2 separate regions of the Homo sapiens genome follow, and region 2 is linked to region 1. The links come from fine-mapping of genetic effects on gene expression. A gene starts in region 1. The other region holds a variant in brackets. All regions are shown on one strand. Distances are from middle to middle.

The links. PIP is the estimated chance that this variant, and not a neighbour inherited with it, causes the effect. A credible set is the group of variants that fine-mapping cannot tell apart.
Region 2: its variant is the best candidate, but not a certain one, in a credible set for the expression of NEK5 in lung (TOPMed, PIP 0.62).

Annotation. Positions count from the first base shown.
Region 1 is chr13:52,126,033-52,131,417 of GRCh38, forward strand. It overlaps NEK5 (NIMA related kinase 5), which reads right to left and starts at 3,041. Exons shown (of 24, transcript NM_001365552.1): 1 at 2,997-3,041; 2 at 1,563-1,630; 3 at 1,334-1,472. The coding sequence starts at 1,450. It overlaps LOC101929657 (a long non-coding RNA gene), which reads left to right and starts at 2,863. Exons shown (of 2, transcript NR_110306.1): 1 at 2,863-5,385.
Region 2 is chr13:52,069,630-52,075,014 of GRCh38, forward strand. It overlaps NEK5 (NIMA related kinase 5), which reads right to left. Exons shown (of 24, transcript NM_001365552.1): 20 at 2,315-2,441. Among named protein-coding and RNA genes, the nearest start is that of UTP14C, 48 kb to the left of the region's middle. The variant G/A (reference allele first, on the strand shown) is at 2,929.

The DNA.
Region 1 (5,385 bases):
GTACAGTTCAATGGCATTAAGTATATTCATATGGTGTAACTTGGGTAGTCCATTTTGCACACACTTTGTATGGAACTTTTTATGCTACTCTCATTTATAAATCCTCTAGAAGCTGACCAACAAGACTTGCCTTAGAATTAATTCTAGCAAACAATGGACATTGTTGTCCCAATATATTATGAAATGAACATATCACTAAAGAGGGTGACATAAACACTGACCAAGGTGGATTTAGCAAAAATTATTAATTTTTAATTAACTATATTTATTTTCCAAAATCATTAGACCAACAATTACATATAGTTTTTCTCTATTCATTCAGTGCACTCAATAAATGTGTTTAGCACCTATTATGTGACAGGAACTGTTCTGCATACTGAGGAAGACAAGCAATAAACAAATGAATAATTAAGAGAGCAAAGTAATTGCAGAGCATTATACATGCTAGTAAGAAAATAAACCAGGCCAGAAGCAGTGGCTCAAGCCTGTAATCCCAGCACTTTGGGAGGCCAAGGCGGGCAGATCACTTGAGCTCAGGAGTTCAAGACCAGCCTGGGCAACATGGTGAAACTCCATCTCTACTAAAAATACAAAAAATTATCCAGGCATGGTGGCATGCACCTGTAGTCCCAGCTATTCAGGAGGCTGAAGTGGGAGAATTGCTTGAATCCCGGAGGTGGAGATTGCAGTGAGCCAAGATCATGCCACTGCACTCCAGCCTAGGTGACAGAGCGAGACTCCGTCTAAAAAAAGAAAAGAAAAGAAAACAAAAAAGAAACCAGGAACCAAGGTGGTGTGATAAGGTGATAAGGTGTGATTGTGGCTGGGGGTCTACTCTAGCTAGGATGTTTGCAGAAAACCCCTCGTAGAGGACCTGAATAAGGAGAGAGGAAGTGCACCACAGAGAAAAGTCAGGGCAACAGAGGAGGCTGGCATCTCACAGGGCCTTGCAGGGCACCCTAAGGAGGGCCATAGGAGCCACAGGGATGTGATCTTATTTCTTTTCTATTTTCATTAAAAAAATTTTTTTTTAGCAGGGACAGGGTCTTGCTATGTTGCCCAGGCTATCTCGAACTCCTGGCTTCACACAATCCTCCCACCTTGGCCATCCAAAGTGCTGGGATTACAGGGGTGAGCCAGTGCGTCCAGCCTCTTTTTAAAAATGAGATCATTGGTTGCTGTTTGGACAATGGACTTAGGAGGTTGAATTAACAAAAATCAATTATGGCTTAAAATTCGAAATTATAAAAAATAAAAATTTCCTTTTTATATTGGATTAAAAGCCAGCTGAATATCCCACTGAAAATTAACAGAAATTTGAACTTAACTTTACCTTTTCAAAATTGATCTCTTTTATGACACAGTGCTTGCTATCTGATTTCCCTTTAGCTAAGTATGCTTTCCCGAAGGCACCTTGCCCGATGGCCTTAATCACATCGTACTTATCCATGGTCTCCAATGGGCTGAGTTTCCTGGAATTAGAGTAATGTAAATTTATCACACACGTCTCATAAAGACTAACAAAGTCAGAAAACTGATGACTAAAGTGTAAAAGAACTCACTTAGCTAAAACTTTCCTCCCAGCCTTGCCAAGACAGAGACAAATAACTTTCTTTGTGGCCACAGATAACTGAAATGAGACAGAGTTTCTTGGTCAGACACGGGTCATAGCTCAGCTTTGATACACTTTTGCCCTGTATTCTCGGGTAAGTCACTTAACCTGGCAAAACCTCACTTTCCTAATTTCTAAAATGGAATAACAATACCTGTTTTGCAAGTTTGTTCTGAGAATGAAAGATACTATATCCGGTGTTTCGCACCTTTATAAAGCAGGAATGTCCTTAGGCTTGTGCACTTTTATAGTTCAGCCTTTCTTAGTGGGGACGTACTGCCCCCTAGGGGGAATTCTGGAAATATATGGGGGTGGGGAAGCTGTTTCCCCAAGATTCAGAGGCATGAGGTTTACAGGTGGTTGGGGCCTGAGATGGTAGGATTCTGCGATTCGAGAGACAGTCCCGCACAATAAAGGATTACCCCGCGGCCCTACAATCTTGGAGAGTCTTCCTATACATTCCTGTGCGTGGAAAAATCCGTTTGTGGCTAGAACCAAACTCTATTTTACATCGAAATGCTAAGTATTTTTGCAGTTTTAATGAACACTTCTTTTTTTTTTCGAGGAATGCAACTACATGTAAATCAAGGCTTGATTGCACTTCGGTTTGGAGGTTTACCAAGAATTGTTCACCATTTGGGAAAACCACGCGCTTCACTGGCCACGCTGCTCCTGGTCCCGGAGACCCAACAATCTGCATTTGCTGCCGTCACGTTCAGGCGACTCCCCAGGCGCGGCTACTGGCTACTTCTCTACATTTTCCAAGGGTAGTAGTGCCAAGCATTTTCAGATTGAAATATGTACTTTCTTACTTATTGCTTTCCTTCTATTTCCTCTTTATGCTACAGTTAGGGCATAATACAGTTTTGTTGTTGTTGTTAATGGGGTGAGCAGGGGGCTTGTTTTCGAATAATTTTACGTCAGGGTGGGAAGTCGGTACTGGGTTGCAGGGGGCTGGGAACCAGCTCCGCAGCCAGGAGAGGCTGCAGACACCGGAGGATCGGGTTCTGAGAGAGACGCATACGGACTTGGGGCCGGGGGTGACTCGCCGGGAACTGAGGGCCCGCGACCCTCCCGCCCAAGTGGCACCAAAGGGTGGAAGCCCCCAAATTAGGAAAATTCCTTCTCCCCTAGGGCCGCCCCTGGAAGCGGCCGCGGGTGAGTGGCAAGACGCTTACCCGTACCCGACCTCCGCGTGTGGAGCGTTGCCATAGAGACCGACGCGCCCTGGACGCTACACCCACACAGCCCAGGACGCTAGGCCTTTTCTGGGCCGCCCCCGCCGCCCCAGGCCGAAACTCCATCCCTTTCCCCCACCCTGCCGAGCTCCCGAAGCCCTGTGGCGGCTCCGGGCAAGAACTAAGGGCGGCCCCTGCAAGCGTACCTGCTCCGCCGGCTCCGCGGGGCCAACGAAGCGTCCCGGAAGGATCCGGGTTCCCGGGGCCGCTGCGCCTCCCTGCGGCCGGGGCGGAGCCGCGCAAGGAAACGCGGGCGGGGCGCGGGTCTGGAATGGCCTGGGGACCAGTCCACCTCGAGGCAGGGTCAGGCGCCAGGGAGTTTGGAGACCCGGCAGAGTCACCCCGCAACCGTCCCGTTGCCTTGGGTCGGGATTCCTTTGCTTTGCAGTCTACAGTAGCGCTCCCCGCTCTTGCTTAAGGTGCACCAGACGCTTCGCAAACGTTCTCTCTTTTCTTTACAACCCGTCAAGGCAGTAGTCTCCCAGTTTTACAAATGAGCTAAACTGATACAGGAAGAGTGTTTCTTGTACAAGGTCTCAAATATTGCCAAAAGGTGGACGTGAGACTGGAACGGCTTCCTACTCTTTGGGCCACAGCGGCGGCCTGCCAAGGGACTTTCTAACGAAACCGGCGCTGCCCAAGCGTCTGCACTCACGCCCAGTGCTCATCCCACCCTGCCCCATTCTGGATTTGCACATCAAGCTGCTGTCTAAAATGTTTAAGTAGTTGAAAAAAATGTAATTTTCAGCAATTGTAAATAGTGACGCAAGTTAAATATATCCAACTGAATCGAAACACTACAGTAATATGGTACCCTCCATCGTCCACCTCACACACACACACAAAAAAAACCCACAAAAAACTCTTAAAAATCCTAAGTTTACATCATTACTCTTCCTTCTTAAAATCATCTCTCCGCCGCCCCCTCCCCGTCCCTGCCACAAAAAATTTCTTCTTCTTGTAAGCACTCTAGTCAAGTTGGATTAGGGCTGAACTAAAGGCCTCATTTTGATCTAATTGCATCTTTAAAGTCTCTGTCTCCGAATATAGTCTCATTATTAGTTATTGGTGTTAGATTTCAGTGTGTGAATTGGGGGTGGCCGCGGCGGGGGTGAATGCAGCCCGTAGCAGGAGTCCAAAAGTTGTTTAGCAGTTGGAATATCCAATGTTAGTTTCTTTGGCAGTGAAATTCCCTCAAAATATTAGTAGGTATATGATCTACTTGTTTTTGTTTAATTACACGTGTCAGTGACCACACCCAAATTTCTTCCCTAGAATTCTTAGACATGCTTCATTAAATCATATCTTCATTCTACTTTCCTGATAGAATTTTACCCGTTATCTTTTTCATACTTGAAAGTCTTATTGATCATCCTATCATACTGCTGAAAGAAGTACAGAAATGGAAATTTATATTTCCTGCTCATAGAATTTTAGTTTTTCTGGATTAAATTGTTAAAATTACTAGTACTACACAATTGATCACAATAAAATGTATCACAATACTGATAATTATTAAATATAAAAAATAAAATTGTATTGAAAATTCATCTCTTTAAGACCTGGATGGGCTTCCCATGCACCGTTAGTTCCTGTATCCATAGATGAATGCTAACTTCTTGCTACAATGAAGTTTAACACTGATTCTCTTCCATTTTCTTAAGGCTGTAAGTGCTGAGAAATAAGTACATAGGAATGAAAAGTTTTGTTAAAAGTGTCCCTCAATTTTTGTCTAGTTGTATCTCAAGAATCATATAGTAATCTGTCACCAAAACTGGTTTATAATCATGAACTGATAATTCCATTAGTCTTCTGAAATTTTATTAAAAGCAAAACCCCATAAGCCATTCTGATTTTGAAAAGGATTTATTATCCAATACTTATCCAGTCTCTCAGTAACTGTACATAATTTCAAGTTTTTTTTGTTTGATGGTTTTGAAATGTTTATGCCCTTGGGCAATGCCAAGATTGAAGATGACTAAGAGGTATGGAATACAGTATATATGGAAGCTGAGTACCTGGAAATGTCCTTAAAACTATCCATGCCTGCTTTAACTTGAAAAATCTTCAAGAGAGTAGTAAGCTAATTTCAAAGAGCTAACCCAAGTAATTTTGGGAAATGGTATTTGACTGGAAACTATGAGACAATAGGAAAGATACATAAACTCTGTACCTTAGTTGGTAAATTTGTTTCTCCCAGGGGTATGGGTTAATGATTTGGAAACTGCTTTACAAATAGACTAGGATTGAACAGCTAAGCAGATGGCGGATGGTACAAGCCAGTTTTCTCATTGTCAGGGAGAGAAGTTACAGAAAAGCGTGAGAAGAAGGCTAGAATGAACCTTGTAGTACTGGGTTAGTTGGAGACATCAGTATGGACCCATGCTTAATTTAATGTATGTACAGATGGAGAGATACAGAAATAACTGTAGAGATGTCTGGATGGATATACAATTATACAGTGTATACAGGTTAGTATACACATATATACTTCCTAGCTCTGTCTGCTGAGAGGGCCTAGAAGCAGTGACACCC
Region 2 (5,385 bases), 56 kb before region 1:
TATTTTTGGTTGATGAAAGCTTCATGCATTTGAATTAGAAAACTGGGAATATCCTTGAGCCCCTTCTCTTCCTCAGTTCCCACACTCAGTATCTATTCTCCCTGCACCACTCTGGCTCATGCACTTGGACTCTTCTCCTGCCTTCAGTCTTGCCCTCCATGCCATCCTTTGCTCTGCAGCCAGCATGATCCTTCTCAATCACAAAAATGATGGCATGTGAAGCCCTGGAGGAGTGCGGACCTCCCTGACTCTCCACCCAGCTCGCACTTCAAACAGTGATTAACATTTCAGGCTCAGAAAACATGTTTTGTGACTTTTTTGCTCATAACACTTCTGTGATATTGAGAACAGGGCCCAGATTTCATTCATCTTTGAGCTCCCTACCAGTGAGCAGTCTTTGGCACAAAGGAGATCCTCAATAAGATGCCTGCTGAATGGAGATTTTTCCAGAAGGAAATGAGGCAGAGAGTATTCCAGGAAGAGGAAACTGAGCCAAGTCAGTTCTGTAAATGCTGTAGGAGAAAATGGGCATTCCAGCTGTAGGAGAAAATGGGCATTCCAGCAGGCTGTATGGATCCCATTTTCCATGGAAGGAAAGAGGCCATGCTGGGATGAGAAAAGTGGGTCACAGCAGAATTAGGCCATGTAGTGTTAAATGTGATAATATGTGGAATGGACCTTATTCTGCAGGTATTATCCAAAAAAAAATCTGAGCAGAGTAATAATATGCCAAGATAACTTTAGTAACTGATATCGTTTGGCTGTGTCCCACCCAAATCTCATCTTGAATTCCTGTGTGTTGTGGGGTGACCCAGAGGGAGGTGGTTGAATCATGGGGGCGGATCTTTCCCATGCTGTTCTCGTGATGGTGAATGAGTCTCACGAGATAAGATGGTTTTAAAAAGAGGAGTTCCTCTGCACAAGTTCTTTCTCTTTGCCTGCTGCCATCCATGTAAAATGTGACTTGCTTTTCCTTGCCTTCCACCATGATTGTGAGGCTTCCCCAGCCATGTGGAACTGTAAGTCCAATTAAACCTCTTTCTTTTGTAAATTGCTCAGTCTCAGGTATGTCTTTATCAGCAGCAAGAAAATGGACTAATACAGTAACCATTTAGAGAATGAAGGGGAAATACTAGAGAAAGAAGGTCACATAAGCAAATAAGGCAATACAGCAAGGGGAAGGAAAAGGGAAAATGAAAAGACAGCACTTAATTTAGGCACCTAGTATGTGCCAGGTCGTTTATACATCAAAACTCACTTTGGTCCTCACAATTACCCTGTGTGGTTATTCCTACTACTATTATCCCCTGTTCCTAAGGTGAAACTGAGATTCAGTGTTGGAATAACTTGTGAAAGAAAGGTCACATAACCAGAAGGTGGCAGCAACAGCTGAGATTCAATTCCCATCTGTCTCTGAAGCCTACACCACACTACTGAGAGATGACAGAGCCCTAAACCAGTAACAGAGAGAATGAAGGAAGAGGAAGACTCCAGAGACATCTCAGAATAGACACTATGCTAAGGGTGCACCCTGGTGACAGCACTGACTGTGAAGTTCTCATAAGATAAGTAAACAACAAAAAGGGAGGGGTCCCAGGTTGGGGGTGGGGATGGGGGAACAACTGTTCTGAGAGATGACTCATCACAGACAAGCTGCTGTCACATCCTGTTCCCAAATACCTCATTCCTTCCACATGTAGCCCAAGCAGCAAAACCTTATCTGCACACCTTATCAGCATGTAGCTCCTCCAATATGACCCTATAAAACTTCCCTCTAGCCCCTGCCTCTTAGCAGACAGCCTCTTCTCTGCTGTGCTGCCCATTGCACTCTTGCAACGTATCTCTGTACTTTAATAAATCTGCCTTTCTTTACTTACAATTGTGTTGATAAATTCTTTTACTGCCCACAACACTGGCCCCAGCCAGTTGCATCTGTGACACTAACCAAAATAAAGGGTCACTGGGAAGAGCACAGAAGAGCTTGACTTTACACAGCTGAGTTTCAGATACTGGCAACACTTGTCCATGGAGCTTCCCAGAAGACAATGAGAAAGACTGGTAAGTCTGGAGCTCCTGGGAGAAGCCAAAGCTGCAAGAGGGAGTGGGTATGGAGCAGGAGAGGAGGGCTGGATCTCAGGGAGTGTGGCCACTGCATGGGTGGCAGGAGAATAATAAGTGTGTTTCTGCCTTGCTTAGAGAGGGCAGAAAGGGGTCAAGTAACAGTGGAGCCGAGGCAGATGCATGGGGACAGAGTTCAAAATGGGTTGCTAATAAAACAGTTCCTTCTCATTTACAACTTTCAAGAAACACATACCTGCTTCTGGGCAGTGAAGTTTTTCAAATGCTTTGTCTGTATAATCTCCATGCTCCTTTACACATTCATATTCCTTAAACTTCATGCCATCCTCAAAGGTCAAAGTTTCATTTGGTATATCCATTGCCTAAATCAATTCCACAGTGTTTCATGATAAATTAGCCATATTTTGAAAGAAAGAAAAACCATATTTTCGTGTTCCTAGTAAAATTAATTAGCAAGGTATATAGTAAATATTCAACAAATGTTTACTAAACAAATAAATCCATAGAGTTTTAAAACTAGAGCTATGTTAGATAAAAACAGAAATGTTTTCATTTCTTCTCCATGTTAACAGTGTCAAGCACTGGTCATAAGGCAACTTAATTTTATCTAGACTTTCTGACTTCAATAGTATTCCACTTCAGCTCCATTCTACAGTGCTCTCAAGCTTTTCTCATTCATGCCCTGTTTTAAGTGTACAACATTCTTAACCAGCTCCCTAAATCTGCTCCTAGTATTTTGTAGTCAATACCAAAATGACCACTTCTGTTTCACGCAGATCAAAGCAAAGAATAAGAAAGAGTGGCAGTTAAAACTTTTTGGACTCCATTCTTTCATTTCAGCAGGGCAAC[G/A]TCAGCACCTCACTTCACAGAAGCTCTGTGAGAGTACCACTTCTCAAGTTCCCACTCAGAAGCAGGTCCCCAGATCTGCTCCACTCTGATGTCTCACCTCTGGGGCATTTAGGAATTTATGGTTGAACAGAGGTGAATGCTAACTATCACCACTCTAATGAAGTCTTTATGTAGCAAATGCTCATAAAAATAAGAAATGCTAACATGAAAATGTTTTAAGCTAATAAAGAACATTAAATAAAAACTGAGCATCAGGTATAATTATTCATACTTATATTGACTTAAAAGGTGAATTCAGAAAAGGTAAAATGGAAAAATAAACCAATTAATTTTGACATTTGTTATAGGTCTGATAAAACCAGGATAAAAAAAGATTTTGAAATCAACTAATAAAATGAAATTTGGATTTACTGTATTGGATTTACTGTATTTACTCCTTGCTGTGGCAAGGAGAGCCCAAATGCATAAATGAGATTTACTTAAAGTTATCAATAACTAATTAAGACCTAAAATAAATGTGCCTGGTTTCAGGGTACCTGTTCAATTTTTTAGGTCAGTATATTAGTTGTTGACAATGTATCAGGTCTTCTATTTTAATTTGGCTATGATAAAAATTAATATTATGAGTAAAATAGCTCTTTTATTTAAAGAAAAGTAAATTAAAATGTAATAATTTATCTAAAGAAATAACACCAATAAAATAAAATGGGAGAATAAAAAGTATTTGGAGGACTCATTTGAACACCAAACATTTTTCTTTCCCTTTTTTTTTTTTTGAGACAGTGTCTCACTCTGTTGCCCAGGCTCGAGTGCAGTACAGTGATCTCAGCTCACTGCAACCTCTGCCTCCTGGGTTCAAGTGATTCTCCTGCCTCAGCCTCCTAAGTAGCTGAGACTACAGGTGGGTGACACCACACCCAGCTAATTTTTTGTATTTTTAGTAGAGATGGGGTTTCACCATGTTAGCCAGGATGGTCTCAATCTCCTGATCTCATGATCTGCCCGTCTCAGCCTCCCAAAGTGCTGGGATTACAGCTGTGAGCCACCGTTCCCTGGCCTTGAGCACCAAACATTTTTCTAGAAATATTTTCTAAAATTCTAGGCATCCAAATAAGAAAAGAAGAAGTCAAACCATCTCTTCACGCTTATGATACTATAGGTTGAAAACCCAAAGACTCGACCCAAAGGTTCCTGGAACTGATGAACAACTTCAGCAAAGTTTCAGGATACAATATCGAAGTACAATAATCAATAGGATTCCTATACACCAATAACATTCAAGCAGAGAGCCAAATCAAGAACGTAATCCCATTTACAATAGCCACCAAAAAATAAAATAAAATACCTAGGAGTACATCTAACCAAGGAGGTGAAAGATCTCTACAAGAAGAGCTACACAACACAGAAAGAAATCATACATGACATAAACAAATGGAAAAACATGCCACATGCATGGATTGGAATAATCAATATCATTAAAATGGCCATACTGCCCAAAGTAATCTATAGATTCAACACTATTCCTGTCAAACTACCAATGTAACTTTTCACAGGATTGGAGAAAAAAAAAACTATTCTAAAATTCATATGTAAACAAAAAAGAGCCCAAATAGCCAAAGTAATTCTAAGCAAAAAGAACAACGCCAGAGTCGTCACATTACCCAACTTCAAACTATACCATAAGACTACAGTAATCAAAACTGTATGGTACTGGTTCAAAAACAAACACATAAACCAAGGAACAGAATAGAGAACCCAGAAATAAAGCCACTCATCTACAGCCATATAATCTTTGACAAAATCGACAAAAATAAGCAATGGGGAAAGGACTTCCTATCCAATAAGTGGTGCTGGGATAGCTGGTTAGCTACATGCAGAAGAATGAAACTGGACCCCTACCTTTCACTGTATACAAAAATCAGCTAAAGATGACTTAACAATTTAAAAGTAAGACCTTAAACTATAAGAATCCTAAAAGAAAACCTAGGAAACACCATTATGAACATGGGCCTTGGGAAAGAATTTGTGATTAAGTCCTCAAAAGCAATTGCAACAAAAACAAAATTGACAAGTGGAACCTAATTAAACTAAGGAGCTTCTGCACAGCAAAAGAAACTATCAACAGAGTAAATAGACAACCTACAGAATAGAAGAAAATATTTGCAAACTATGCATCCAACAAAGGTCTAATATCCAGACTCTATAAGGAACTTAACTGAACAAGAAAAAACAACCCAAATTTTAAAGTGGACAAAAGATAGAAAGAGACACTTCTCAAAAGAAGACATACAAGCAGCCAACAAATATATAAAAGAATACTCATCATCACTAATTATCAGAGAACTACAAATCAAAACCACAATGAGACACCATCTCACACGAGTCAGAATGGCTATTACTAAAAAGTCAAAAAACAAATATTGGCGAGGCTGCAGAGAAAAGGGAATGCTTATGTAG